Homo sapiens: one gene and its partners. The protein of the gene in region 7 purifies or fractionates together with the protein of the main gene of each other region. This does not show direct contact. Each region holds a gene or a part of one and is shown on either strand. Other genes may lie near its edges.

Region 1 (4,278 bases), on a different chromosome or scaffold from region 7:
TCCCTCTTTCTCTCTCTCACTCAAATACATACATGCACAAACACACACACACATGTGCACACACATCTTGGTGTGTTTAGAAAGTACCAAGGAGAAGGTGCTGTCTCGAGCATGTGGTTACCTGGTTGTGTTTATAGATAACAATAAGAGCTACCACTTATGAACATCTGGGCTGGGCACTTTACATGATCTCTTACTCGAACGAGAACAAGAAGTTGGGTCTTTTAAAAGCCATTTTACAGATGACAAAGTGAGACTCAGGGTGGCCAATCGACTTGCCTGAGCTTCCAGTTTATATGGATTGAAAAGTTGTGTGCTCTCCCCACCACCAGGCAGCTATAGTGAGTGTTCATCCGAGTGATGCTGTTTCTGTTAAAGAAAGAGATGGCTCGATGAGAAATACAGAACCCGGATACATCAGGGGAGTCTGCAGAGAAATTGTTAATATTTTTTTGGTGTCTGTATCACTTAAGGCAAATGACTGAATTTCAACCTATCCCCAAAGACTCCAGTTCTTTTCTATGGCTTATTGGGGGCCTCAAAAGTGTAGCTCTGGTTGTTGAGAGCGGCGTCATCCGAGGAGCAGAAACATCTGGCTTGTTGCATTATTCCCTGTGGGCGCTCCTAAGTCTCTTCTGTTAATCTTTTGAGTGACAGAGGCTTAAGGATTGGCATCTTTTCCAGCTGGCTTTCTAGGAAACCAAGAGCATGCCCTTTCAGTTTAACTTTATCTGGCTCACTAATTGAGCTCCCCCGAGGCCTAGACCCCAGTCCTCGCCCCCTTATTTGCTTCCTGCCTTCCTTCATAAAATTCTTGACATTTGTTTGACTCTGGAAACCAGCGGCTATCGAGTATCAGATTGGAGGCTATTATGTAGGAAGCACCTGATTTTGGGGTCTCTCAACTGTGAGTGGTTGCTTGGCTAGCTGGGACGTTGGTCAGGATTCTTTTAATCACTGAGGAGGCAGCCGTTTCTTTAATCCTGCACAATTTACTGAAAATGTTTCAGGGGAGGATGGGATGGGGGAGGGGCTCTCCCTGGCTGATGGTGTCTGGCCGATGGTCAAGCCAACTGCCTGTCTTTGTTAAATTCTGTGTCTCCCTTGAAGATGGAAAGCTGGGTGAAGGCAGGAACTGTTTCTGTCTTGTCCAGGGATTTATCTCCAGAGCTCAGCAAGGGGCCAGACACCTGTCAAGATTTACTTTGTTGGTACTGATGGAATGAACAAATAAATGCAGATAATGTGTGTTTGAGAGTGATTACAGGTTCCACTTTGACTGGAGGCAGGAACTAGATTTAAGAAGTGTGAGAAATAGGAGATGATGCGAAGATCAAGAGGTCTGAGTCAGAAATGGATTTTTATTTTTTAAATTTGACAGATAGCATTGTATGTATTTATTGTGCACAATATGATGTTTTGAAGTATATATACATTATGAAATAGTTAAATCTAGCTAATTAATGATAGCATTACCTCGCATAATTATTATTTTTGTGGTGAGAGCACTTAACATCCACTCTTTGCATTTTTCAAGGATACAATAACTTGTCATTAACTATAGTCACTTTGAATAGATCTCTTGAATTTATTACTCCTCTCTAACTATAATTATGTACCCTTTGACCAACCTCTCTCCTTTCCCTCTCCCCTCTTCCTTCCTCAGCCTCTGGTAACCACTGTTCTACTTTCTACTTCTATGAGACCAATTTTTTTAGATTCCACATATGAGTGAGATTATGCAGTATCTGTCCTTCTGTGGCTGGCTTACTTTTCTTAACGTCCTCCAGGTTCATCTACATTGTTGCAAATGACAGGACTTCATTCTTTTCTGTGGCTGAATAGTATTCCTTGTGTATATATACCATATTTTCTCTATCCATTCATCCACTGATAGACAATTAGGTTGATTTCATATCCTGGCTATTGTGAACAATGCTGCAATAAACATGGGAGAACAGGTATTTCTTCAACATACTGATTTCATTTCCTTTGGATAAATGTCCAGCAGTGAGATTGCTGGATCATATGCTAGTTCTGCTTTAAATTTTTTGAGGAATGTTTTTACTGTTTCTCATGATGGCTGTACTAATTTATGTTCCCACCAACAGTATGTGAGAACTCCCTTTTCTCCATATCCTTACCAGCACTTGTTGTTTTTTGTCTTTTTGATAATAGCCATTCTAACTGGAGTGAGGTGGTATCTCATTGTGGTTTGAATGCATTTCCCTGATGATTAGTGATGTTGAGCATTTTTTTTTTTTTTTTTTTTTTTTTTTTGAGACGGAGTCTCGCTCTGTCGCCCAGGCCGGACTGCGGACTGCAGTGGCGCAATCTTGGCTCACTGCAAGCTCCGCTTCCCGGGTTCACGCCATTCTCCTGCCTCAGCCTCCCGAGTAGCTGGGACTACAGGCGCCCGCCACCGCGCCCGGCTAATTTTTTGTATTTTTAGTAGAGACGGGGTTTCACCTTGTTAGCCAGGATGGTCTCGATCTCCCGACCTCATGATCCACCCGCCTCGGCCTCCCAAAGTGTTGGGACTACAGGCGTGAGCCACCGCGCCCGGCCGAGCATTTTTAAATATACCTATTGCCCATTTCTATGTCTTCTTTTGAGAAATACCTATTCAGATCTTTTGCCCATTTTTTCATTGCATTGTTTTTTGTTTTTTTTGCTATTAAGTGATTTGAGTTCTCTGTGTACTTTGCATATTAACTCCTTATCAGATATACAGTTTGTGAATATGTTCTCCCATTCTCTAGGTTATCTCTTTACTTGGTTAATTGTTTTCCTTGGTGTGTAGAAGCTTTTTAGTTTGGTATAATTTCATTTGTCTATTTTTGCTTTTGTTGCTTGTGCTTTTGAGGTCCCCAAACCAAAGTCATGGAGCTTTCCCCCTATGTTTTCTTTTAATAGTGTCATAGTTTTGGATCTTACATTTAAGTCTTTAATTCATTTGAGTCAATTTTTGTATATGGTGAGAGATGAGGGTCTAATTTCATTCTTCTGCATGTGGATATCCAGTTTTCCTAACACCATTTATTGAAGATTTTCCTTTCCCCATTGTGTGTTCTTGGTACCTTTGTTGAAATCAGTTGTCTGTAAATGCGTGGATTTATTTTTGGGCTCTGTCTTCTGTTCCATTGGTCTATGTGTCTGTTTTTATGCCATTACCATGCTGTCTTGGTTCTATAGCTTTGTAGTTTATTTTGAAGTCATATAGTGTGATGCCTCTGGCTTTGTTCTTGTTACTTTTTACTTTGCTTTGGCTATTCAGGGTCTTTTGTGGTTCTACAAAAATTTTAGGGTTTTTTTTTCTATTTCTATGAAGAACATCTTAGTATTTTTATAGGGATTGCACTGAATCTGTAGATTGCTTTGGGAAGTATAGACATTTTCACAACATTTGCTCTTCCAATTCATGAACGTGACATCTCTTTCCATTCATTTGTGTATTCTTCAACCTGAAACTTATTTCTTAAATGTTTTAGATATTTGTTATTTCTTCTCTCACCTCTTGATCACTTGATTCATCCTTCAAAACCCAGTTCCAACATTACTCTCTAGGAACTTTTCTACAGAGCATTCTTTTTGCTTAGGAACGATTACTCTCTCCTTCGAACAACTTCTTTTTTTTTTTTTTTAAGGAAAATTTGTATTATTTTAATTATTTTTATGTACAGAAAACTCAACAGTGTACATTTAACCCAGTTTAGTGGCAAGTTCTTTAGCCTTTGCCTTTTTGCGCTTGGCGATACGAGCCACAGACTTAGGACCCAGGACATTGCCACCCCAGTGACGGCGGATCTCATCGTATCTGTCATTGTAATTGGTCCTGATAGCTTCCACCAGCTTAGCCAAAGCGCCTTTGTCTTCTGAGTTCACCTGTGTGAAGGCGACAGTGGTGCAGGTCTTCCTGTGGACTAGACGTCCCAGTCTTGCCTTCCCCTTGATAATGCAGTAAGGGACCCCCATTTTACGACATAGGGCAGGCAAGAAGACAACCAGCTCGATGGGATCCATGTCGTGTGAAATCACCACCAGCTGAGCTTTCTTGTTCTCCACCAAGGTGGTGACAGTGTTAACTCCTGCTCGAAGGACAGGTGGTCTCTTCTTCGGGACGTCCCCTTTGCCAGCAGCTTTCTTCTCGGCCCGGGCCAACAGTCTCTGCTTCTTCTCTTGCTTTGTCTCTGGCCTGTACTTGTGGGCCAGCTTAAGCAGCTGAGTAGCTGTTTGGCGGTCCAGGGCCTGGGTGAACTGGTTAATCGCAGGAGGCAC
Region 2 (3,500 bases), on a different chromosome or scaffold from region 7:
TTGCTGTAACCCCAGGATGAACTTTGCAGAAGGTCAGCAGCTGAAGCTCTGACCTCACACCCCCAGCAGCCTGCACGGGCACACTGTCCCTCACTTGCCTTTCCCCTGTCAGCTTTGATGTTCCTAACGCCTCCCTGGTGAGCTCATCCCAGCCCAGGTGGTTCTAATAGAAGGCAGTGGGAGGAGGGTGTTTGATTCCCCGGAAGAACCCCCCCCAACCCACCCCAGCTTTCTCTTGCCAGTCTGACCCTCCGATCTCCCTCCATCCAGGTGTCCCTTGGAGGTGCCAAGGAGGCATGCCCCACAGGCCTGTACACACACAGCGGTGAGTGCTGCAAAGCCTGCAACCTGGGCGAGGGTGTGGCCCAGCCTTGTGGAGCCAACCAGACCGTGTGTGAGCCCTGCCTGGACAGTGAGTAGAGGGTGGCGGGCAGGAGGAGGGGAGAAGAATGGGAGGGAGGAGAGGGGTGAAAGGGAGGGGCGCTGGGGAGAAGCATGCCCAGTAGAGGCCTTATAAGACCACCACTGTAAGGTCATCAGAAGTGGGTCTGACCCAGTGTAGGAGGCGCTTCTCCCAGATTCGAGAAGCTGAGAATGGAGAAGGGAAGTGTGCAGAGGGAGGAGGGGAACCCCATGGGGGATCTCCAAGGGGTGCCCATTCCCAGCTCTGGAGAAGGCAGAGGCTTGGTAGAAGAGTGTGGCTGGGCAGGGAGGAGTAGCTGATGCTAAGACCAGCTAAAAATATCATCTGCACTGCAAAATCAATGGCTGCCACTTATCCCCGGTGTGTTTGGGGGAAGGGAGAGGAGGATCAAATCCTGGCTGCCCTGAAGGCTGACCTTGGGGGATCCTGGGGGTGTGGCTGTTCCTCCCTACAGGCCAACTCTTCTCCAGCTTTGACCAGGAAGCAGAGTTTTCCCGAGGCAGCAGGGATGGGGGTCAGAGCGCCATGAAGACGTCCTTACTGTGGGGTGACAGAGGGGAGGGGAGACGGGGAGCTGTGCCCATTCCTGCCTGGGATTTCTTCCTTCCTTCCTTCCTTCCTTCCTTCCTTCCTTCCTTCCTTCCTTCCTTCCTTTCTCTCTCTCTCTTTCTTTACCTTTCTTTCCTTTCTTTCCTTTCCTTCCTTCCTTCCTTCCTTCAACAGAGTTTTGCTCTGTTGCCCAGGTTGGGAGTGCAATGGCATGATCTCAACTCACTGCAACCTCCACCTCCTGGTTTCAAGTGATTCTCATGCCTCAGCCTCCTGAGTAGCTGGGACTACGGGTGCATGCATGCCACCATGCCTGGCTAATTCTTGTATTTGTAGTAGAGATGGGGTTTTACCATGTGGACCAGGCTGGTCTCAAACTTCTGGCCTCAAGTGATCCACCTGCCTTAGCCTCCCAAAGTGTTGGGATTAGAGGCGTGAGCCACCGTGCTCGACCCTGCCTGGGATTTCTTTCAGGAGGGGAGAGAATCTCATCTTCCTGGGCTGGTGGGTCTGGGCCCCTTGGCCCCAGTCTTGTCCAGGGTCTGAATTCCCTCATGCTTTTGAGTCAGGAGTCTCGGTCCCTGATCGGTGCCCCCAGTCCTCAGTTGCTGCCTTTGGGCCGTGGGCTCCCTGCCCTTTTCCTGACTCCCTGCCTTCTACCTGGCACTCGATGCCCACCTGGAGGGCTCGAGGGAACCATACTCAGATTATTCTTTAATCCGGCTGGGAATAAGGGGATAGAGCTGGGGCCTCTGAACCCACCTGCGGACCTAGTGTTACCTCTGGATGTCCCCCCTGAGTCTATCTGTCCTCCAGGCAACCCCAACTCTTGGTGTTCCCCAGACACACTGTTTTCCCATCTCTGTGCTTGTGGATCCTGTAACACCATTCCCCAGCCAAGAAATGCCTGGGCGTATGTGTGGAGGTGGGACATCCTCCAATGCCTTTGCCGTCTTGCTTCATGGCCACCTGCTCTGGCCCTGGCCTAACAGGGTTTCCATTCCAGGGCGGGGGTGGCCAACCATCAGCTATCCCAGAACCTCCAAATCTGCCTCTCTTGCTTCCTAGACTCCAGCCCAGGACTCTCCTCCCAGGACCTAAATGATGGGAACCCTTTCCCTTCAGTCAAAGGACCTTCAGCAGGAGGTGGGGCGGAGGACACCAGGAGAGGGAAGTTCCAGAATCTCTGGAAGGGAAGGGAGGCAGGCAGAGAGGTGGCTTTGAGAATCCTCCCTTCCACTTCCTCCCTCCCCTCCATTTTCCCCTCCTTCCCTGTCTCCCCCTCCTCCACCTCCAGCTGCATTAACAGGCTGCCTTTACAAGCCCACTTTATGGGACGGAGACCCCAGCGGACTTTCCCTCTACCCTTAAAACGTTTCCACAAGGAAACCTATTAAGCCCCTGCCTTCATTCTCTGCCAAAAAAGACCACATTTTTCACACCACCTAAAACCCTCTCCCAGGAGTTTTCTGCTAATTTTCTGTGTTTTGCCATGAGCAGGCTTCTCCTCTTCCCCTCCTGTGTGACTAGACTTACCCTCCATCACACGCCAGCCAGCCAGGACCCTCTTGTTTGTATAGCTCAGACATCCTGCCTTTGCTGTTTGTGTTTGGACGTTCTTTCTGCTGTCTGACCATATTCCTACCTCCAAAGTTCAATGTCCTCATCGCTCTCCACCCCCATGGGGCCCAATCTTTATAGGATCCCAACTACGTGCCAAAGCTTTATGGCTGAATTTCATTTATTCCTCACTACAACCCTGTGACTGCAGATATTGCTCCTTATTTTTACAGAGAAAGAAAAAGCTCAGAGAGGTTAAGTAAAACACCCAAAGTCACACAGCTTATAAGCGATGGAAATGGATTTTGAATCCAGATCTGCCTGCTCCTAGGAAAAGGGACACAGGGTTCCTCTGTCAGAATTCACTTGAAACTGAAGTCTCCCTCCAGGCCCTTCTTCCTGGGTCTTTTCTTCTCTCCTCTACCCTTTTTCTTTCTTTCTTTCTTTTTTTTTTTTTTTTTTTTTTGACAGCGTCTCACTCTGTCACCCAGGCTGGAGTGCACTGGTGCAGTCTTGGCTCACTGTAACCTCTGCCTCCCATGCTCAAGCAATCCTCCCACCTCAGCTTCCCGAGTAGCTGGGATTACAGACGTGCACCACTACACCCAGCTAATTTTTGTATTTTTTATAGAGATGGGGTTTTGCCATGTTGGCCAGGCTGGTCTTGAACTCCTGGCCTCAAGTGATCTGCTCGCCTTGGCCTCCCAAAGTGCTGGGATTACAGGAGTGAGCCACCACGCCCAGCCTTTGTCCCCAGTTCTGCCCCTTTCACTTCTCTCTGGCTTTTCCTTCTTTGCCTCCTCATCCCCCCACCACACCCCCGAAGCCAGTGACCCCTTGCTCCATCTTGTCTCTGATGCCTTTGAATAATGTTGAGACCCCCCTACAGGCCTCAGTTTCCCCCTAATGGCGCTTTAGCCTTTCTGCTTCTGCTTCCACATTCTGAACAATCTGTCCTTCCCTGGTT
Region 3 (4,795 bases), on a different chromosome or scaffold from region 7:
ACCCCCGATAAAGTCTCAGGATGGGAGTTCAGTTTGTAAAGCATCTCTAGTTGCAGCTTCCTGGGGCCTGCTGCACACACTGGCCTTGGGCCCCTGGCCTCCATCCATGCAGGAGGGGTTTGTCACTACTCCCTGACGGTCCTCTTGGGCTCAGGCACCCAAACGCTAGGGCTCAGCACCCAGCCGGGGGCCGTGGCATAGCACATCTGCCCAGATGTTTTCAGGAGATCTGAGTGGGAGCCATGGGGCCAGCCAAGAGGGCAGGGAGCCCCGGATTTGCAGAAGCAGCTGAGGAAAGAGCTGGCATTGCTCAGACTCGCCAGTGTTAGCCAGCCGATATCGGTCAAGGCTGCCCCGCTCGAGGGTCCATTATCCCCTTTCCCCGGCCTCAGCTGTGCACTCCAGGCCATAACAGCACAAGACCTTTCCACAACCCCAGGGTAAGGGTCAGATGTGGGGTTTCCAAAAGCTTCAAAACTTACCCCTCTATCCAGCTCTATCCAGAAGGACACCAGGGGACAGAGAGATGGACACGGAGGCCTCAAAACAGGAAAATAAGGAGACCCCTCCCCATTGTTGATTACTTGGGGTTACCTACAGAAAGAGATGAACTGAAGGGGCTGAGCCTATCTGAGGATTAAAGCACAGCTTTTGTCAGGAGTCCGTGCCTCCGGTCTTTGTTCCAGCGACCTGAGGAATGGCATGCATCAGAAGCCGCTTCCGTGTCTCAGATGGGGCCTGGGTCAAGTCCTGGGAGTTGATGGAGCGTTTCCCAAATCGCAAAAGGAGAGGAGCTAGACTTACCTCCCCCTCCTGGGAAGTAATGCGCGACAAGAATTTAAACTCTTAAAACGATTAGCAGCAAAGGTCTCATGTGCTTTTTTTTAATTATCATTTTTTAATCGAGGTATAATTTATGCATTTAAAAAATCAGATCAATTGCCCCCCGGGCTCTGGGATGGAAGGCGGTGTGCGCCTGCGAAGGTCAGAGGCCCAGCGGCGCCAGGGCTCCTCGGCGGAGAGCCGCCCGGGTCCGGCGCTTTGCTTTCGCCTTCTGCCCCACCGCGGGCGAAGCCCCAGGGCCCCGGGGAGACTCCAGGCCGGCTGGGCCGGGGTGCGCCCGCCGGCTGTCCGCGCTCGGGCAGGGTGGGGCGCAGCGGGCGTCTGTCCTGCTAGCGGGGATCGGGCGGCTGGACCCAAGAGCAGGGCACGTGCGCAGCGACGCGGGGCGGCCCCGCCAGGAGCCCCGACCCGGGCGCGGCGCAGGGCCCGGCGGAGAGCGCGCATTCCCGAGCGCCGCGAGCCGGCCGAAGTCGGGCGAGCGCGCCGTGCGGCGGCTGGGAGTGGGCTGCATGTGCCGCGCGGGGAGCCCGCCCGACTTCGGGGAGGCAGCGGGGCGCCGTGGCCCCGCGGCTCAGCTCCCTGCCGGGTCGGGTGTCCCAGCCCTGCGACTTCCGGGGCCCGGCGGCTCCTCGGGGAGCTCGTCCACAGGCAGCCTCCGGGGCGAGAGAGCGCGCGGCGCGGGCGCCGGGACGGTCCGCGGCACGCGGGTGGAGCCGCCGGCGCTCGGGCTCCCGCAGGGGCGGCGGGCGGGGCGGGGTGAGGCGGGCCGGCCGCCCTCCCCTCTCCTCCCTCCCGCAGCCCGCCCTCCCTTCCTCCGGTCCCGCAGCCAATTAGGCGGCCCCCTCGGGCGGGAGGCGTGGGGCGCTGCATAAAGCGGCGGGGAGCTGCCACCCCGGGAGCGGGCTGCGCAGTGTCCGGGCCGAGCCGGTGCGCCGCAGACTAGGGCGCCTCGGGCCAGGGAGCGCGGAGGAGCCATGGCCACCGCTAACGGGGCCGTGGAAAACGGGCAGCCGGACAGGAAGCCGCCGGCCCTGCCGCGCCCCATCCGCAACCTGGAGGTCAAGTTCACCAAGGTGAGGCGGGCGCCCCTCCCACCCGACGGCCGCGGGCCCCTGCGCTGGGCAGCCAGACTCGGGGCGGCGGGGGCGAGGGAGCAGCGGGCCGGGGGTCCGCCGGGCGCCGCCGAGACCCGAGCCTCCCTGCCCGGGCGCGGCTCTCCAGAAACCGCACCTTTCGCGGGACGTCTCGGGCGGGATCGCAGGCGGCGGGGCTCGGCGCTGTGAGCCTCGAAGCCGGGAAACCGAGGCCGTCCAGCGCCCGCGCGGGGCCGGGCCGCCCGCATCCCTGCGAGGCCCCGACGTGTCCCTGCGCTGCCCGCTTTGATCGCGAGTGGAGGTGCGCGCCGCGTTGACTCGGAGCGCGCTGGTTTTGGGGAGCTCCCTCCCCAAAAACCCCTGCGATGATTTCCAGGGTGGACGAGTCTGGCTTTGAGAGGGTCGGAGGGTCCGAGAGCGCCAAGAGAGAGTCCGGGAGGCAGATGGCGGAGCTGCAGTTGGAAGACTGGGGAAGCGGGTCCTCCGAGCAAAGCGCAGCGGGCGCCTTCCGTGCTTAGTTTATACCCGGCTCAGCAGCAGAACGAGGAGGAGTAGGAAGGTGCTCGCTTACTGACGAAACCTCCCCGGAGCCCAGAGGTCCCGGTGTTTACACACAAGGCGCGCGCTCCGGAAGGTCGCAGACCTGGGCCTTTGGGAAGCGGTGGGTCGCGAGGCCGCAGAAGCGCACGGTTCTCTGCCTCCTCGCTCTGTGGGCTGGGAGGCTACAGCGTTGGCAGAACGGCGAGATTACCTGCCCGGGGCAGAAAGGAATAAAAGAAGATGGTGAGGCCTCCGAGGCCTCTGAGCTGGGGCTGAGGAGGGCCGAGAGACCCGGGTCCGGGAGCGCGACCCGATGGAGGACACCCCCAGGCTGTCTGGCGTGCGCGTCTGTCGTGGGCCGGTGCTGGGGCACTTTAGAGGCACAGGCCAGGCCGAGAGCCATTGCCTTAACTTTCCCCACCTTTGGCTTCTCTTGATTTTTGCTTTTACCCATAGCCCCCAACTCCAGCTGACACCGCACTTAGAGAATTTCCTCATCCGTTTTACTTTAAGAAGTAGCAATTATCTTTCTCAAAGAATTTTAATCAAGCGGAGAAAGTTGCAGGGCACTATGTGTGGCCTTCAGATTTGGGTCTCTTGGCACTTAATTCCCAATGTCGGCTGAGCCTCTGATCACAAGACATTTAAATTAACTGTTTTCAGAAGGCTCTGTAATCAACAAAGACACGTCGCTGTAAACTAAACGCTGGAAATTATTCTTAATGTAGTTTTATTTGTAATATCAGCTTCAGAGTGAAAATTCCAACACGAATTCTGGGAAGAGTGAAAATGGTACCCGAATTTTGTAAGACCCTAACCCCAGGTGCTTGGCTGCTGCTACTGATGGTTAAGTGGGGAGGTTGTTTGTTTTCTTTTGGTTGTACAGGATTTCAAAATACTGTATATAGAAACCAGACAGTAAATGTATTATGGTCCTTTTACTTTTTATGTTTTTGAGTCCTATCAGCAATCTGACCACATACAAAAAGTTTACCTCTTTCTCTATGATTTTTAGGACACTTTTAAAGTGTAGATGTAGCCCTTATGGAGACCTTAGACAATTCACAGAGCAATGGTTGCCTGTTGTCTTGGTGGGTGCGCAACCTTTGCCAGTTAAAGGGAACCAGTGCAGGAATGAGGCTGAGGGAAGCTGGTGGATCGGCCTGGAGTGCTGGGATCTTGAGTGGTCTCCCAGGCGATAAAGGCCCCAACTGCCTGACACCGGCTGCTGGCTCCTCACCCGTTGGGGGACTGTGCTGCTGCCTGCTCTGTCCTGGCTCCTGGCCCATCTCTGCAGAGACCTCCCCATAGCAGTTGTGGACCCAGGCAGCTTGTGTGGCTGAGGGTGGCCAACCAGTGCCCTGGCACAGTCCTCAGGGAGACTGGACTGGAGAGGCGGCCGAGAGTGAGGCCACCAAGAGTGCCTGCCGAGGGAAGGAGCGGGATAAACTGAAGTGCAGGACTGAGGCCCAGAGTGGGCGAGTGGCCCGGCAGGTGGGTGGCCTGGCAGGAGAGCAGACGGTGGAGCATGGGAGCCAGCAGTGGTCTGCTATTTTCCAAAATTGACTCATGGTGCTTCTCGATAATGGGGCACACACCAGAGTTGGTCCATCTGAGCCCTAGCCCCGGCAGTGCCATTTCCCAGGGTGGTCCAACTTTCAGGATGACTTTGTCAAAGCCCCTTCATTTGTCCTCACATGTTAACATTTCATTCTCTAGGGTCATGCTGTGTGATTCTGGAGAGCTGAGAGCCCCTCCAGGGTCCCCACACAGATCTCAGAGGATAGAAGTCCCTTCTAATTTAGAGGGCCTCTTTCTTTCCTTATAAAATTTCTTCCAGTAGCAGGGATTCTCTTCAAAGTTTTCTGATTTTTAAAACACCGGTTTTTATTATCTCTCTTATGAAAAATAAAATTCCCCCAAATCTCCTTTTCTGAAAACATATTCTTTTTGAGTTTAGCTGAGTGGCCTGTTGTCAGATGGAAGTTACGGGAAATCGGCATCAATAGGATTCACTTGTATGACTGTCATCTTCACCTCTGCCTGAGACACCTTACAGCTCCGTCCTGCTTCCATGTCATTCTGTTCCTTTTGTAAAATGTGAACCAGGTCTACAGCTCAATGTAGCTTAATGCTATACCTCTATAAGGTTTGTTGTATGCTAATCCACAAATCAAAGACAACAATTCCTTCTAGACCCTTTACCCTGATTTGGAGTTCAAAACAATACAGCCAGCATAATCAGTAGACCATATTTATATACCCTTTCCTTATATTTGTGCTTTTGTTTTGTTTTAATGGAGAGAAAAATCAACAGT
Region 4 (4,190 bases), on a different chromosome or scaffold from region 7:
GCTTGTACAGGAGAACTCCTCCTTTTCCAAAACCATCAGATACCTTGAGACGTATTCACTATCATGAGAACAGCACTGGAAAGACCTTCCCCCATGATTCAATTACTTCCCACCGGGTCCCTCCCACAACACGTGGGAATTCAAACTGAGAGTTGGGTGGGGCAACAGCCAAATCATAATGGATAAAATGACAGAAATATCTGTCTCTTGCTAAGCTCTTACAGCTTTTCTCAGCTTATACCATGAGGCCTGCCACAAGGAAGGATTTCCCCTATAAAAAAATTTCCTGATAATTCTCAAAACAGCCTCTGGCGTCTCTTCACGAATAACATCATCCACCCATCTCTCCATCCTTCCATTCATTCAGTTATTCTATAATTGTCAATTCTCTGAGCAGCTACTACACACCAGGCATCACGTGAAGATGGAAGGTAGAACAATGGCTAAGCAGAGGAACTTCTGGTGGTAGCTGGCTGGTCCTGGGCTCAAGTTCATGAGAGGTGACACAGCTGTGCAGCCAGCAGTTGCTCTACAAACATTTAGATGAGTGAAAATAATGAGGGAGGGACCATCCGACACCTGGATTTGAAGGATAGTTTGGATTTTCCAAAAACCACACTTGCAACAGGTTGTGTACTGCAGGTAGACCTGGATTAGTGACCTAAGTTTCATCTTATCTTGAGGAGAGTGAACTTTGATATAAGGGCTCAGGGAATCCCAGCTCCTTTGTTCCTTCCCATGTTGGCTGCAGAGAAGGGATTCCCCATGATAGCCAGGGTCTTCAGGGCCTACTGTCACAATGTACAGAATAAATGGATGGACTAAAAGGGCCAGGTTGCTCCAGAGCTTCCGAACGTGACCATTCTTCCCAGAGTTTCACTGCTCCGAACTCTCCTTCACAGACTGAGGTCAGCCTGCCCCTATGTTGTTTACCCTGAGTTCCTCCTTGGAGAAAAGGCTTTTTAGAACCGAAATAATCATTTTAGTTTTTCCTTTCCCCTGCCAGGCACGAGTATACTGAGTGATGGATTAACAGAATATTACTATTTTTCACCTAGCCACCATGCCCTTGGCCTCCCAGAATAACCAGAAATACCTATTGTTTATCTCTACATCCACTTCATATATTAAACAGCCCTACAAGTGTCACCTGTGCTGAGGATTAGACTCTTCCAGAAGATAGGACAGTTTCTGGTTCCAGCAGCCCCAGAATGTCTTCCTTCTCTCTCTTTCAGCCCACACCACCCTTCCTGTAAACACTACACCTGGGAGCAAAGGGTGTTCAGGGGGATAAAGCCCAGGTGACATCCTTGTCAGACAGCAAGTGCCACAAGTTTCATCACAAAAGTTGAGTCAACAGGTGGGTGAGGGAAGAGGGGTGAATCACATCTGACAGGTAAGGAATGTAGGCACAGCAGCCCAGATGGATCCTGTTTCCTTGAGGCAGGGCTTGTTCCATGCATAAAAAGCCAGTTGGCTGGGAACACTACACCAGTTCTAAGGGACCATACAGAGTATTCCTCTCTTCACACCAGGTGAGTCTCTTTACTTGGAACTCTTTAGCATCCATTCTAGGTATTTAATTTTTATTAGAGTCTCCTTGGCATTCTTGGTATTTTTTTCCCTCATTATTGAATTTGATCATAGCCATGCAGACTGTTCAACTGAATTATAACCTCTAGGAATATCTTCATTTTAAAAGTGTTCATACTGTAGGCTTGAAGAGAATTTAGACATTATCAGTTCTTCATTCACTCTTTCTGTGTCAGCAAGAAGGGGGTTGGTTTATTCAAGGATCCATAGTAAGTTTGTAATGGGATAATGACTAGAACCCAGGTCCACAGCACTTACCCTGGCATTATAATTCCTTCTTATTTATAATTTTAATACAGAGAATTTTATTCTTTCAACAGATACTTTTGTGAGAGCTTACTATATTTGGCAATTTGTTTGCAAAGAAATAATTTAAGCATCTATGATACTACAATTTAATCAGGAAATAAGAGCTAAAATGCATTGTATAACAGTAACTTATCAGTGCCAGGTGATTAGGGCAAGTTCTGTGACAGTTTGGGAATAGAGAGATTTCTGGAAGGTTTTTTCTAGAGAAGCCACTAAAAGTCCCATATGAAGCGATCTGTGGAGTTTGGTTAGTGCTTGAATGAGTAGGAACAAGGAAAACATTTAAGACAGAGGAGAACTTGAGCCAGGCCACAGGTGGGATTGCTTGGGGTTCTAGAGAGGTCAGAGTTATACAATAGATGATAAGCCATGCTATTTATCAGAAATGAGTGAGTAGATTTAATTTGTTAGGGTTTTTTTTTTCCAAAGAACCTCACATTTCCAATGGTCCAGTATTATGAGTCTCATATTCCTGCTAGAAGCCTGTTATTGTGCTGTGTAGGAAGAAAGAGAGCACCAGGAGAGGCCCTGCTCCAGTGGAGCAAGAGCAAATCATCTTTAGGTTCCTCTTCTTCAAAGGCTCAGAAATTAAATTAAGTATTCTTTGTGGTCAAGAAGGGGAAAGAACATAGCTTTTTAAGAGACCAGAAGTGGTATTCACCATGGCTTCTTCCCTATTATTCTCTGCTTAAATCATCTGTTCTGTGTCCAGGACCAGTCACTGTTGCAGCATGAGTTCCCAGCAGCAGAAGCAGCCTTGCACCCCACCCCCTCAGCTTCAGCAGCAGCAGGTGAAACAGCCTTGCCAGCCTCCACCTCAGGAACCATGCATCCCCAAAACCAAGGAGCCCTGCCACCCCAAGGTGCCTGAGCCCTGCCACCCCAAAGTGCCCGAGCCCTGCCAGCCCAAGGTTCCAGAGCCATGCCACCCCAAGGTGCCTGAGCCCTGCCCTTCAATAGTCACTCCAGCACCAGCCCAGCAGAAGACCAAGCAGAAGTAATGTGGTCCACAGCCATGCCCTTGAGGAGCCGGCCACCAGATGCTGAATCCCCTATCCCATTCTGCGTATGAGTCCCATTTGCCTTGCAATTAGCATTCTGTCTCCCCCAAAAAAGAATGTGCTATGAAGCTTTCTTTCCTACACACTCTGAGTCTCTGAATGAAGCTGAAGGTCTTAGTACCAGAGCTAGTTTTCAGCTGCTCAGAATTCATCTGAAGAGAGACTTAAGATGAAAGCAAATGATTCAGCTCCCTTATACCCCCATTAAATTCACTTTCAATTCCACTCTTGACTGTGTGTCATTGACTCTACAACTTCATTCCTTTCCCTCGTGAAGCGGGAGCTGTACACAGAGATGAGTTGGTGAAGAAGGGCTTTGTCCAGAAGGCATCTGATGCTCACATTAGGAGGGTGAAGGGCTGCCCCCACAAGCATTCCTGGGCTGCCTATGGGAGGTTGTGTAATGCCACCTAGAGGCTGTTGCTTTGGGCATCCAGGGCTGGAAAAGGGCTCTCCTCTTGCAACTCAGTGAGTCATGCTAGAGTTTAGTTAGCACTTGTCTAAGCTGACTCTGACTCACTAATCCTGATTGCCTTCTCTCCAAATCTGGCTTTTAGACTGCTAACTTACCAGCCAATTCCTGTTTATTTCAAGTAATGTTGTTCCTACATATGCTAACCTGCTCCTTCTCACTCATTTCTCTGATATCTACAACCTAGATTTCCAAACACCTCCAAAGATGCACAGACTCCGTTCTTTATCTCAGTTAGTCATTTCTAGTTTCTGAGTGCCAACTCTGGACCTGAAACAGAACAAAGGGGATTTAAGGTGCTTGCCAGGGGCATTTACAGTGCCCTGGAGGGATATACTTCACTCCCTACCCCACCCCTCATTCAAACACACATACACACATATACAACCACACACACAAGATCTGGAGTCCTCACAGAGTAATGCACAAAAGCTGATCCAGTTTGGAGACTGTTTCTTTCACATAGGTGGGAACCATGGAAGTGAGAACTGTAAAACCCACCCTCACCCCTCTCCCTGTAGTATCAACATGTTTCAAGTCAAATTAAACAAGATAGAGTTATCAACAGTGTATTCATATATATATGCATATATTTTTATATTGATGGAAAAATAGGTTGCTCTTGTATGTAACTGGGAGACAAAGCAAGTTGTTCTGCAGTAGCATAAAAGAGATTCTTTTTCTTAGGATGCAAAATGAAATAATAAAAAAATTACATGCCATTGGTATAACTCAAGAAATTGTGATATTTTTGA
Region 5 (4,853 bases), on a different chromosome or scaffold from region 7:
CTGCAAACCTCCCAGGCTCCCAAGTAGCTGAGACTACAGGCACATGCCACCATGCCCGACATATTTTTCGTAGAGATGAGGTTTCACCATGTTGCCCAGGCTGGTCTTGAACTCCTGAGCTCAAGTGATCCTCCTGCCTTGGCCTCCCCAAGTGCTGGAATTACAGGCATTAGCCACTGTGCCTCACCTGACACTAATCATTAAACAGTCCTGTGAGAGAACTATAAACCAGCTATGAAGCTACTGAACTGGACTACCACCCTACCTATAATTTTTGCTCACCATGTATCTGAAACACCACTCTCTTCTCATCAGACAGTCCAGAGGCCTTACCCCAAAAGAAAATTAAATAAATCTGGTGTAATTTGTCCTTACTGGACCCATTTGGACCCACAGAGTACCAGTTCCTGCCAGAAGTCACAGGCAATCCTCAGACAGCACCAGGTTCTCTATGATCTGGCCTCTGCTTACTTATTCCATTTCCTGCTTTACCCTCCCAAGATGCCACCTTCTTGTCTGTCTAGGCTTCTCTTATTGTGGGCACATAGCTTTGTTCTCTCATGCCTGGGCCTTTGTCCGAGCTGTTCCCTTTGATAGGAGTGCCATCACCCTGTGTCTCACTGGCTTCAACAGCCCTCAGATGTCACCTATAACTTGGCTTGACTGACCCACCTGAGGTGAGTCAGGTGTTCCTCCTGCATATTCCCACAGCACACTCTGCTTAGCCGTACTGTAGTCAAGTTATTTAAGGACAGAGAGAGAGTGCATGATCACTATGTCCCCAGATCCTGGTGGACAGTAGAGTTCATGAAGTATTTTTTCTGTGTTGAAAGAATAAACCACTTCCTCTCACAGTACTTACAAAGCCACTTCCAAGACAGCTTTGGATTTTATTTTAACCAGTGTGCTCCCATCCCCTCCATGTGCAAAGAGTCCCAAATTACCCATTTTTCCAGAGAAATTGATATTAAGGCCTAGAAGCTGCCCAAGATCAGGAAGCAGAAGACACCACTTCATTGTGAACCAGCTCATTTAACACAACTGACACCAATTCTCTAATTTACAGTAAGATGTCCTGGGGCACAAAGAAAAATCAAACAGGCTTCTGTCCCCCAGGACCCCAGCATGGAATGGGCAGACAGACTCCTGCGCAATTAGCAACGACAACCCATGATGAAGTGCAACAGGGTTCCAGGGAGTCCTGAAGGGGAAGCAGTGAATTCTGCCCCAGAGGGTGTGGGGACACAGCCTTCTTGGGGAAATAAGATTTCATGCAAGATGCTGGAGGACAATCAGCTTTGTCAGTGAGAGGACACGCACACTCTGCAAAGAGACCAGCATGAGAAGGGCAGCATATGGAACTATATGGGTGGGTTTAGAGGGTCCTGATGCCACTTGGGGGTTCTCAGATTTGGTCCTGCAGAAGCACAAGCATTAAGCCATCCTAACAGGAATCCGCATTCTTGTTGTGGGTAGAGTCCAAACCACCAAGGATGAACAGAGGCTCCCGTCAGAGGGCTGAGGAAAATCTAGAAAGCTGAAGGGCAGTGAGGCATTGCCAAGTGTCCTGCTCTGGATGACTCTTGGATGGGGCCAGAAGGGCCAGCTGGGAGGAAGGAGGCAGAGAGCTCCATGTTGCCACAATGCAGCAATTCTGCTGGGTGGAGGTCCTGCTCCTTCCCCAATGGTGAGAAATGTCCTGTCCTGTTGCCTGTTCCTAAGAAAACGGGGAGTGCCCTGCATATTCCCACAGCACACTCTGCTTACTCCTAGCCACACTGTATTCAAACGATCTAAGGACAGAGAGAGAACACATGGTCACTCATGGATACTGCCTGCCTAACTCTTCCACATCCTTCAATGCCTGGCTCAAACTCCACCTTCTCCATGAGGGCTTCTCTGGCTACTCTAGCCTCAGGATTCTCTTTTCTTGGCAAGCACTAAACTCTCAGTCTCAAACTGGTTTCTGGCATGCTTCAGTCTTCTTAACCCTGTATGGCCTGGGCTGTGGTTCTGCTACACAAGAAGCTTTAGCACTGCACTGGACCCTGTAAGTTTGTGATGCTTCTATCAGATGTTCCAGGCACTCCTGCCAACTGGGGTGCATGGAGAGTGGCCTAGCGGAATAGAGTCTTTGTCCTCCCACCCCGAAGCCCAGGATCTCTGCCTGTGGGAATATCACGTGTGAGGGACTTGAAAATCTTCACGAGTCATGTAGTTAAAATGACAGTTGTTGAGGGAGGAAAAAAAAAAGCAACTGTAAACACATATGACACTCTAGTCAATGATATGCACGATGACGTATTTAGTGAGGTGTCCTGATGTCTGCAATTTATTTGGAGATGCATCAAAATGTAGGCTGGATTCGTGGATGTCTAGAACAGTGCGTGATAGTTATGTGACACAGCAAGTATAGCAGCAGTTAATGGCAGAATGTAGGTGGTGGGTATACAGATGACCACTATAAAATTCTTGCTGTACATCTGAACATTTTCAAAATAAAGTATTGGGGAAACCACACACACAATAAACAAAAAGACTGTTGTTAAAAGTTCCCCGTTCTGTCAGCAAATCTCCAGCGGACCTAGTGTTCTGTCTCTGCCAGGACTGTCTCCTATCGACCTGGGGGTGGTTTGGCTTAGATGTTACTTCCAGGAAGCCCTCCCAGGGCCGCAAAGACAGGGTGAAGCGCCCCTCCTCTGCATGCACCGTACTTCCTCAGCTCAGCACGGACTTCCCTGTACTGTGAGGGCTCTACCCCAGCAGGAACTACAGCACCACGTCTGCTACACAGAGAGCCCTCAACCAACCTCTGTGAATGCCATCGCCCAGCCTCTCTGTCCTCTGTCACCCGGGCGCCTAGCCAACAGCCAGGACCATGGCAGATGCTCAGCGACCCTGGACCTCCCGGTGAGATCCGCGGCCAGTCCTGCCCAGGCCTCTTTTCCGTCCTAGGTGGCCCTCTTCACATGCCATGCCCCGGCCCCATCAGGACCTTCCCTGCCGCGTCCCCTTCGGCGCCTCTCCTCCACCCAGCTCCTTTTCCGAGGACCCCTCCCTCACCCAGCCGCCCTCCTATACCCCACCTAGCTGAGAACTGAGAACCCTTTACCCGCCGGCCCTCCCCAGCTGGGAACCCCACCGCGTCCTTCCCGCACCGATTTTGCCCGGCGGGGCATCTCCGCCAGCAGCGGCGGCGGCGAGGAGCGCGGTCAACGCGGCGAGCAGCGGGGCTGCGCGGGCCATGGCGGGCGGCGAGCGGGCAGCACGCCGGATTCAGGCGCTAGCGGGTTGGCGCTCGGCTCTCCGCCCCGCCCCGGCGCCCCACTGGCAGTCCCGCCTTCCTGCCGCGCCAGACCCAGCTCCGCATTGGCCAAGCCGCCGTCCCTCTCCAGCACGAGGCCCTCATTAGCTCCATCTCTCTCGGGGTAGGCTCTCTCATTGGCAGCTTCCCCGTTCCGCCCCGCCCCCCGCATGCGGGCTCCTCATTGGCTGGGTTCATTCTTGCCCGGCGCAGGTGTGCCCGCTTCGGGTCCTCAGCATCAGGACCAGGGCCCAGCTGCGGCAGAGGGATGAAACAGACCAAAGTGAAGCTTTGAAGACCTCGGTTATGTCCAGCCTCTGCGTTATTAGCTCTGTATCTTCTCTGTGTCTGTTTCCTCTATTATAACACAGACGAAGAATCCTGCTCCACCTTTCTAGGTGGTTGTAACCATCTTATGAGATAAGGGAAGCCTTTTGCAGTGTCTGCAAGTGCTGGAAATTGCTGACCAAGCATGCGGCCAGGGTGGTAAGACGCTACCTCATTCATATGCTGACACAAGCCCTATGCTTTCTATACTGCTGTTATTTATGTGTTTGCAGTTTTTATATAGTTAATATCTCTGCTTTCTGCTTCCTAAAAACCAAAAGGCGGGGGAAGGTTTCATCTACTCTCTTTTCAGAAAGGAGAAAAGGAGGGATAAACTCCCATTTTCATCCTCTAAGAAGACAAGAGCAGCAGCTCAGACTTGCTAGTTTATCACGCTGTGAAAAACAGACTTCCTCTGGCAGAAAATAAAGTTAGGGATGAGTTTCAGAATAAAGAAAATCCGGAGGCTGGGGGTGGCTCAAGCCTGTAATCCCAGCATTTTGGAAGGTCAGGCGGGAGGATCGCTTAGGCCAGCAGTTTGAGACCAGCCTGGGCAACATAATGAGACTCTGAGACCCCGTCTCTTAAAAAAAAAAAATTCGCCAGGAGTGGTGGTGCACACCTGTAGTCCTAGCTATTCAGGAGGCAGAGGTGGGAGGCTTGAGACCGGTAGTTTGAGGTTACAGTGTTCTATGATTGTGCCACTGCACTCCAGCCTGAGTGACAAGAGTCCCTGTCTTTAAAAATAAATAAATATATAAAAATAAATGAAATCCATATTTACTCAGTGAGATTATGGCTAAAATAAGAAACTGGGCCGGGCACAGTGGCTCATGCCTGTAATCCCAGCAGTTTGGGAGGCCGAGGTGGGCAGATCACTTGAGGTCAGGAGTTCGAGACCAGCTCGGCCATCATGGTGAAACCTCATCTCTGCTAAAATGCAAAAATTAGCTGGGCTTGGTGGTGTGCGCCTGTAATCCCAGCTACTCGGGAGGCTGGGGCAGGAGAATCGCTTGAACCTGGGAGGCACATGTTGCAGTGAGCCGAGATTGTACCACTGCACTCCACCGTGGGTGACAGAGCGAGACTCTGACTCAAACAAAAACAAAAACAAAAAACTGAAGTGATTCAGAGAATGGTGAAAGAGCTTATAGCTGGGGTTCTAACTCAGCACTGAGACTTAATTTACTTGGGCCAAACTGGATTACTACTAGTAAACTGG
Region 6 (4,094 bases), on a different chromosome or scaffold from region 7:
TAGTGGGTTTGCAAGATCATATATTACTTCTATTTCTAACTTTTGAGGAAACTTCATACTGGTTTCCGCAATGGCTGTACAGGTGGTATTAGGTTTTCTGTTTCTGATTTTGTTGGCTTAGCATAATGGCCTCCAGTTTGATCCACTTTGCTACAAAAGACATGATCTAATTTTTTTATAGCTGTGTAGAATTCATGGCGTATATTTATCACATTTTTAAAATCCACTCTACTATTGATGGGCTTTTGGGTTGATTCTATGCCTTTGCTATAGTGAACACGGCTGCGATAAATATACACATGCATGTGTCTTTATGGTAGAATGATTTATATTCCTTTGGGTATATACCCAATAGTGAGACTGCTGGGTCAAATAATAGTTCTGTTTTAATGATGATGTACTGCTGCTAATAGACTACTATCAAATGAGTAGTAATGATATGTCAGAAATTGTGTCAACTGAATTCCTGATATTAATTCCATTTTATGCCTAAGATAAGTTAGTGATATAAATATTATTTTCCACATTTTAAAATGAAGAGATTAAAATTCTGATTGATTTGTTCTTCAAATCAATCAAACACTAATTAAGGAAAATAAAAGGGGTTTAAAATGATATAAAAATAATCATTGTTATGGCCCAAAATTCAGATAACAATAATTGTGAAATCCTGGTCCTGGGGATCAGAGAAAGGTAGAACAAAATCCAAATAATCATATAATATTACTAATAAAGCAGATTCTAAAAGAAACAAAAGATCCATTCACAAATATATATGCATAGATACTTTATTCAGGGAGTGAAAGATAAATGACAATTGCAAAGGTGGTAGAAGCTCATGACCAGGTGACAGACAGACACAGAACACATCAACAGAATTGTCTGATGGTTCCCAGGGAGAGAGCTGCTGCTCTTTCTTCCGAAGCTCTGGGAGCTGGCACAGCTGAGGACTTCCTTTTCTTAGCTCCACCTGGACAGTGGCAGTATGGCAGCCTCAGAAAGGGAATCTTTTGCTGTCACAGATCATCACAGGCAGGCCACAGGTTAAGGAGAAAGAAGCTCCCTGTGCATCCATGGAAGGCTTTGGTGAGAAGATGCAAGTGGAGCTGTGGAACGAGGTGAGCCAATTATCCTTATCCTCTCATGCTCCTGATGAATCCTGAAGCTGTTACTTGCTCTTGGGTGGACACTTTGGCTGGCAGGGTGGGGAAGGTGTCACAGGAGGATATTTCTGCTGGCACTGCTGAGGTGGGCAGGGCTGTGGACACTTTGGTGATGGGCAGGGCTCAGGGCACTTCGGGGGTGGACATGGCTCTGGGCACTTTGGCGTGGGGCACACAGGAGGTGGCTGGCAGGGCTGCTTGCACTGCTGCTGTTGATAAGACATCCTGCTGGAGTCTCAGGATCTGAAAGAAATGATACAACAGTGTTTGTGGGAAGGGACTCCTCCAGAGAGAGAAGCTAATGCTTATGTAATACCATGAAATATTATTTCCCCATCTCCAAGAAATTATTTAAACTCTTAACTGCCTTTTCAAGACTACTTCGTTTCTCCCTTCCACTTTAGCAAATTGCTTCATTGGCCCTGGGAAATCTTGTGTTTTCTCATACAATTTTTCCAAAGAAAATATCTCTGTAGTAATGAACCAAGCATGTTATTTCTGTGAAAATAACATCTTTAGGAAAGGCAGTGACAAGTTCAGATACCATGAGCAATCTCACAAGCCATTTCTCTTATCATTATCTGTAGTAAAGTCCCAGTGGGTTGACTTGAGCACAGAACAAAGGGCTGTTTGGGAAGGATTGCAGGCTCTTGGCACCTGTTAAGACACAAACCTTTGAAAAAGACACCAGGAAAACATGGGGAAAAAATACTTTGTTCTTTTTTCTTCTTCAATTCAAAGCTTTCCTATTAACTTCTCTGTCCGTATGGACACCTAACTGTATACAAGAAACAAGCTAAAATAGCATATCACTGTACTCTAAATCTAAATTTCCATCTACTAAGTAGAATCAAACCCATGGTTACAGAATTGTATCAACCAAACTTGCTGTTTTCAGATTAAATTCAATATTTCAGGTCACAAAGAACTGAGGAACTCAAGGACTCACACTCACCAGGTTCTCCAAAGCAGATCGGTGCTAGAGTACCAGGAGTTTAAGAGTTGTGCAGCAGGGAACCTCTTTATAGGACGTTCTGCCCCACCCAGTGGGAAGTGGAACTGCCTAAAACTGGGCTGGTCCAGCAATGTCCAAAGTAAAATGCAAATGTATCCATATCTGGCATGAGAGGCATTCTCAAACTAGGAAATATCCTGTTCTGGGATCTCCCCACTGGGTTAAGTGCTCATGAGTCACAGAGAACCTGCCTTAGATCTCAGTTTCAGTGACTTTCGTCAGAGAGATAATTGGAGGGATTCTCTAACCGGTTGTCAAGGGCTCTCTTTCTTGATTGGGAACAATGATCCCTTCCTATCTTACCTCCCCTGAGTCATAAAACTTCCTGTCCTGATCCACTCTAGCTGAATGCCATATTGTTGTACATGAACCCAACTCTACCTCTACTTTCCTCATACAGTTGGCCAATGTGCTAGAAGGAAGGAGAGACTTAACAAAGGCCTGAGCTAAGCTTTTTCTTTGCTAAGTTCCATGACAACAGGCATGTCACCTCTCCTCCCTGGGATTATAAACAGGGGACAATAATACTTACCTCTGGGTTTGCAGGCTGACCACATTGTGCTATCTGCTGACCCTGTTCAAGACTGAAATTTTCTTTGCCACCTTTTTCTCAGATAAAACCTCAGATTTTTACCTATATTCCTTTCCTCTTTGAAGCTGTCTTCTGCACCACATTTGTAGCTTCTGCACCACATTCGTAGAGGCACTTGCATCCCAGGACAGATTTGAGAGTGAGATCTAGTCTCCACAGCACGTTTGCTACTTGGTGCCATCAAGGATGTGTACTACAGCCTTTTTATTTATAAAAAGTAATGGAGAGAAGGAAACTAAAGTTACAAGTATTGACTCAAAATCTATGTATGGAACCATGCATATATGGTTCCCTGTGAACATCCTATAGAGAACAAGCTGCATAGACATTATCATATGTAAATAATTAGAAGTAGGTGTGCAGAGTGAGGAAGGTAAGAGCACTTAAAGTTTAACTCAAGGGGAAAATACAAACAAAGGGTAATCCAATATGTATTCTTCCTCTCTATTTCCAAACAGGTTTTAGATGTTTCTCAGTGTTTTTTAATTTGTTTGCATGTTCTTCCTTTGTCTTTTCCATAAACCTTCTAGTCCCACAAACTGCTAGATTATCAACTCATACCCAATGTATACCTGTCATCTGTCCATTTTGGTACATATTGTTCACTTAACACATATGTTGTCAATGCATTTAGTGATTGTCCTTTCACAACTTTTTTAAATGCTTCCTACAATCAGTGAGCCTTTCTAAGTACTGTATATTAAACATTTAAAGTGATGTTGCTACTGCTTCCTTATCTGGACCATTAATCGGGAAGCTTCCCAAGAACATGGTTTTATAAGTGAATAAGAAGAAAGGAGAATGAGGAAGAGGAAAGACTCAAAATCACTGGAGCAGTCACCAACTGTGCTCCAGGAAGGGCAGAGTGTTGAATCAAGCCAGCATCACATCCCTCAGTTAAGTAGGTTAGGTTCCCAGAACAGCTGTTGCTCCTGTCAGTAAGGAAGAGCTTTTAGCCAAGATCACCACTGGCCAGGACACTACAGAAATAGAGCCATCATGTCAGCACCCTGAGGCCAGGTGATTACAAATGGTGTTCTCACCAAATGCTTCCTATAGACTATTACACATGCCACGCACTTCACCAGCCAAAGTAAAAGTCCTTTACTCAATAAATCACCCACTACTCCCCAAGAGCCTCACATCACATCTAAAACATAAATCCATAGAGAAATGTCTAATTTCTGCCATGCAAAATTGAAGAATTCGCTGCCAAATGAGATCACTGTGTGAGATAACACAGTTTGGGTCACAACCTGAGACTCCCCTTCTTAGGACACCCCACTCAAACAGGCTGCTTATCACAGCAGTGCAGGCACCAGAG
Region 7 (4,278 bases):
AACAACCAAAATGAATTTCGTCAGATAGTATCTACAAGAAGTCAGATGCTTTCACAGGCATAATATTCTTTAGTTGAGTCTTTGTAACATCCTGGTGAGTGGTTTCCAGTTTGCTATTTGGGGAACTGAGGCTTACAGAGTTACACGCCTTGTTCAAGGCCCACCCCAGCCTGAGAGATCAATGCACATTCACTGGGGGCTTGTGTCAGTTTGCATCCTTTAGGAAGCAGATGCTAGGACAGAGATAGGAGTGTGAGAGAATTGTTGGGGGCGGGTATTGCCTGTGAAAGACAAATGGGGAAGTTGGATGGGACAGAGAGAGCCTCTGACTCTATGCAGATCTGATTAAAGTCTCAGTCAACTCAACAGAGATCACTGGGCAGAAATAGCTGTCCTCTGCCAGGGTCAGGTATTGGCTGGAGCTGTCTGGGAAGAGCACAGCCTCAGCTGGAATCCTGCAGCAGATCCCAAGAAAGCTGCAGCTGGAGGCTGTCAGCTGACATTCCGCCTTGCAGCTGAACAGCATGAAGTGACCCACACCTCTGTGGCTGCCCTGGAGCCTGCCACGCGTGAATCACTGTGTTGGGAGGGTGTGAGATGTGCTCCTTGGCCTGCAGTGTGGCTGGGGATCATCTTTGCTCATACCTCTGTAATCAGTGTGTGGAGCGTCAGGACTGACAGTAGGGCCATTGGGACTGGCCCAGAAACAGAATCCTGAGCAATCTTGCCACCAGCTGACTCACAAGGTGCCTCTTTCTGATGTCAGAGAAGTCACAGGTGATGGATTTCAGAAGAAAGGAGCTCTGCTTTACGCTGAGCCACCGAGTTCTCTGAACTGCAAATCCTTTTAGCCAAGTGGATTTGGCGATCAACCAAAGCAGAATAAAATGTTTTATCCCAACCTTCCTTTTTGCCAGAAGGAGTCCTAGGAAGCCGATGTAAGTCCAAGATTGGGAAAAATCTACAGTCTTTGAAACCACGGGCTCACTTGGTCCACCAATGTCTGTTCTGACCAAAAAGGACTTCTGTGTTGAGTTTAAATTAGCAACAGTAGCAACAATAACACCAAAAGCAGCAACAGTGTATCTGAATATTCAGTAGATGTCAAGTGCTATCTACATTGGTACTCATACCAGCTCATTTAATGTTCCCAACAGTCCTTTCAGCTGGTAGCCATTTGGGCTGCCATAACAAACTGTTATAGGTTGGGTTGCTTATAAATGACAGAATTTATTTCTCACAGATCTAGAGCCTTGGAAGTCCAAGATCAGGGCCCCAGCAGATTTGCTGTCTGGTAAGCACCTGTTTCTTGGTTCATAGATAGTGGTGTTCTCACTCTAAGCTCACACAGTGAAAGGGATGAGGGAGCTCTCTGGGGCCACATTTATAAGGGCACTAACTCATTCATAGGTTATATCCTCATGACCTAATCACCTCCCAAAGTCCCCACCTCCAAATAACATTACCTTGGGGTGAAGATTTCAACATATACATTTTGAGGGAACACAAGCATTCAGTCTGTAGCAGCTGGCTATCATTTTATCCCCATTCATGGAGGGGAAGCTGAGGTACAGAGGCATTATTGCCCAAGTTACATGGCTAATGAGTTGTCGAGCACAGGCCTGTGCCTTTGCCCACCCAGGCTGACTGCCTGTCAGGAAGTCAAGAATCCGAGTTTGGGGGCTTCAGGGCGCTCAAACATCTGTCTTGTGAAGTTCTGTTCTGCCTGCTTTCCTGGAAAAGTTATTGAATTGCAATAGCAGTAGCTTCTCTGCGGCACCCTTTGGGGATGCTTATTCATGACCCACTGGCTACTCTTGGGGGGATGCTAGGGTTCTGTTTTCTGGAGATGTTTGATCACTGAGTGAACAGGGACCCAATGATTCTGCCAGGGACATTTGAAGGGCCTCTTCTCACACCAAGGCTGTCTAGCATTAAGACAGAAGTGTCCCAGGAAAGATGGAGTACTCTGCAATATTCCATGTATCCCTCTAACCTCCTGGGGCTGCTTTGTTACTATCCCCCCATCCACTCTGAGTTCTACTGGCTCCCACCACTTATTTAGGAATCTCTGAATTGGGGAAGGTAGCCATGGTGGCCAGTGTTTCAGAATCACTCCTGGGTTTGTAACTTTATTAAAGAAACCCACACAGAGTCAAACTTCTGCACCAGTGACCAACAATATGTGAGAGGATGATTTGTATCCTCAAATATTTGAACACTTAATAAAAGGCATGAATGGGTACAAAAAATTAGAAAGAATGAGTAAGAATGAGTAAGAACTAGTATTTGATAGCACAACAAAATGACAATAGTCAACAATAATTTGATTGTAGTTTAAAAATAACTAAAAGAGTATAATTGAATCACTTGTAACATAAAGGATAAACGCTTCAGGTGATGGATACCCCATTTACCCTGCTGTGGTTATTACATATTACATGCCTGTAACAAAATATCTCATGTACCTCATAAATATGTACCTACTGTGTGCCCAAATCTTTTTTTTTTTTTTTTTTTTGAGATGGAGTCTTGCTCTGTCACCCAGGCTGGAGTGCAGTGGTGCGATCTCGGCTCACTGCGAGCTCCACCTTCTGGGTTCACGCCATTCTCCTGCCTCAGCCTCCCGAGTAGCTGGGACTACAGGTGCCCCCCACCACACCCGGCTAATTTTTTGTATTTTTAGTAGAGAGTGGGTTTCACTGTGTTGGGCAGAATAGTCTCGATCTCCTGACCTCGTGATCTGCCCACTTTGGCCTCCCGAAGTGCTGGGATTACAGGCGTGAGCCACCGCACCCGGACTATGTGCCCAAATTTTTAAGAAAAATAAAAAATCACGGAACAAATTTCCTCCATCTTAGCTGATCTGTTGGTGTGTTAAGGCCACCTGGGAGATGGCCTTTCCTACCCCTTCCTATCTAGTGTCCAAGTGCTGTGATGTATGTGGATCCCAGAGTAAACTTGGTGTTGTGCAGTACACACCAGTAGGCAGCATTGCAGAGGGTCTTGGCACCTCTTTTGCACCAGGATGGGTCCTAGAGGGTGGATGTTCCAGATTCAGCTGAGTAGTGTTCCTGTCTCTACCTTCATTGAATCCCTGGTTCCACAGCAACAACCAGATCCACGATTTTTGTGCCATAAAAGGGGGCACTGCTGAGATGCACAAGTGCCTGGTGGCCAAGAGAGTGGGCTCCAGCATTAGCCCTGCCCTCAGCCTGCCTTACTCAGCTCTCTGCTTAGGAGCTGTGTGATCTTGACCAATTACTTCAGCTGTTTGAACCTCAGTTTCCTTTTCTGTAAAGAGTAATAAGGGTACATCCCTCATTAGGTTGGTGGGGGCATTAAATGAGATGATATCTGCAAAGCCCAGAGCACAACACGGCACACAGTAAGCCCTTGATAGATGCTCGTAGTTATTTCTCTTGTTACTTGATCTGATTTATGAAACCAATGGTCTTTTTCATCCTGACTTGAGATGCTGAGTTTTCTTTCAGTATTTTTGTTGATTCATTCATTTATTCATCAGACTTTGAGTGTTGACACTCAACACTGAAATGAATGAGATATTCTAACATAGACACACTCTTCATTATGTGTGGCCTCTAACATTTTTGTTATGCTCTACATAAATCTGCATTTTTGTGCATTCATTTACACCCTGTCTGCTTCCAAAAAGGATCTGAGATGGCTACTTTAAATGGAGATCTTTGGGATTGTAAATCCTAGAATTTTGCCTGCCTGTTTCTTCTCTGTGCTCTTGGAAAGCCAAGGAGCAGATGGGAGGCCACCCTTGTTATGGGGAGCTCCAGCTCCCACCCCAGGCTCCAGATAAGTCTGGGAGGTAGATCTACAGTTCCAGGATGGGATACTTTTTTAAAAAGTAAATGTAAATGTATTGCCATATTTCTCTTGAAAAAAAATTATCACAAGAAACCAACAAGAAGATATCAAGGCTTTTTCTTAGATCTGCCAGAAGTCTGTAATTTGCTCTATCCCTTGGATTTTAGTGTTCACTTGCTGCTTTCAGATGTGGAAGGAAAACCTCAGTCCTTTTGCCTTGCCTCCTTCTCCAGTTGCCTCCCCTCAGTGTGTCTGCCAAGACCTGAGCCCCAGGCCAGGGCAGCAGCCTCTGACCTTTCACTCCCTAACACACAAGCTGGGGACCAATGTCACTCCAAGGTTGGACCCTGCCCCCGTGCCTCTGCTTTTCCCAGTTGGGCATGGACTCCACCAATTTCATTCTCTGACTTAGCGTTATGTGGTGTGGATTGTACTGCT

The links.
Region 1: the proteins of ITGA9 (region 7) and SMOC1 purify together in Homo sapiens (affinity purification with mass spectrometry, with the first as the bait; one large-scale study listed by BioGRID). This does not show direct contact.
Region 2: the proteins of ITGA9 (region 7) and NGFR purify together in Homo sapiens (affinity purification with western blotting; one study listed by BioGRID). This does not show direct contact.
Region 3: the proteins of ITGA9 (region 7) and ALDH1A3 purify together in Homo sapiens (affinity purification with mass spectrometry; 2 studies listed by BioGRID and IntAct, with this or other methods). This does not show direct contact.
Region 4: the proteins of ITGA9 (region 7) and SPRR1B purify together in Homo sapiens (affinity purification with mass spectrometry; 2 studies listed by BioGRID and IntAct, with this or other methods). This does not show direct contact.
Region 5: the proteins of ITGA9 (region 7) and PCYOX1L purify together in Homo sapiens (affinity purification with mass spectrometry, with the first as the bait; one large-scale study listed by BioGRID). This does not show direct contact.
Region 6: the proteins of ITGA9 (region 7) and SPRR2D purify together in Homo sapiens (affinity purification with mass spectrometry; one large-scale study listed by BioGRID and IntAct). This does not show direct contact.

Annotation. Positions count from the first base shown.
Region 1 is NC_000014.9:69,881,638-69,885,915, forward strand, and holds part of SMOC1 (SPARC-related modular calcium-binding protein 1 isoform 1 precursor), read left to right. Parts: intron 1-3,644; exon of another isoform or gene 3,645-4,278. UniProt on the Homo sapiens protein: Plays essential roles in both eye and limb development. Probable regulator of osteoblast differentiation.
Region 2 is NC_000017.11:49,501,793-49,505,292, forward strand, and holds part of NGFR (tumor necrosis factor receptor superfamily member 16 precursor), read left to right. Parts: intron 1-270; coding exon 271-412; intron 413-3,500. UniProt on the Homo sapiens protein: Low affinity receptor which can bind to NGF, BDNF, NTF3, and NTF4. Forms a heterodimeric receptor with SORCS2 that binds the precursor forms of NGF, BDNF and NTF3 with high affinity, and has much lower affinity for mature NGF and BDNF.
Region 3 is NC_000015.10:100,878,091-100,882,885, forward strand, and holds the start of ALDH1A3 (retinaldehyde dehydrogenase 3), read left to right. Parts: upstream 1-1,740; 5' UTR 1,741-1,817; coding exon 1,818-1,916; intron 1,917-4,795. Other genes in the region: collagen alpha-1(I) chain-like, read right to left, coding at 931-1,713. UniProt on the Homo sapiens protein: Catalyzes the NAD-dependent oxidation of aldehyde substrates, such as all-trans-retinal and all-trans-13,14-dihydroretinal, to their corresponding carboxylic acids, all-trans-retinoate and all-trans-13,14-dihydroretinoate, respectively.
Region 4 is NC_000001.11:153,029,713-153,033,902, forward strand, and holds SPRR1B (cornifin-B), read left to right. Parts: upstream 1-1,490; 5' UTR 1,491-1,535; intron 1,536-2,614; 5' UTR 2,615-2,633; coding exon 2,634-2,903; 3' UTR 2,904-3,188; downstream 3,189-4,190. UniProt on the Homo sapiens protein: Cross-linked envelope protein of keratinocytes. It is a keratinocyte protein that first appears in the cell cytosol, but ultimately becomes cross-linked to membrane proteins by transglutaminase.
Region 5 is NC_000005.10:149,356,462-149,361,314, reverse strand, and holds the start of PCYOX1L (prenylcysteine oxidase 1-like isoform 1 precursor), read right to left. Parts: upstream 3,270-4,853; 5' UTR 3,247-3,269; coding exon 3,159-3,246; coding exon of another isoform or gene 3,143-3,158; intron 1-3,142. UniProt on the Homo sapiens protein: Likely to have oxidoreductase activity. Required in the mevalonate pathway to regulate prenylation and enhances the bactericidal activity of neutrophils.
Region 6 is NC_000001.11:153,038,960-153,043,053, forward strand, and holds SPRR2D (small proline-rich protein 2D), read right to left. Parts: upstream 2,162-4,094; 5' UTR 2,119-2,161; exon of another isoform or gene 2,113-2,118; intron 1,407-2,112; 5' UTR 1,388-1,406; coding exon 1,169-1,387; 3' UTR 773-1,168; downstream 1-772. UniProt on the Homo sapiens protein: Cross-linked envelope protein of keratinocytes. It is a keratinocyte protein that first appears in the cell cytosol, but ultimately becomes cross-linked to membrane proteins by transglutaminase.
Region 7 is NC_000003.12:37,458,087-37,462,364, forward strand, and holds part of ITGA9 (integrin alpha-9 precursor), read left to right. Parts: intron 1-4,278. UniProt on the Homo sapiens protein: Integrin alpha-9/beta-1 (ITGA9:ITGB1) is a receptor for VCAM1, cytotactin and osteopontin. It recognizes the sequence A-E-I-D-G-I-E-L in cytotactin. ITGA9:ITGB1 may play a crucial role in SVEP1/polydom-mediated myoblast cell adhesion.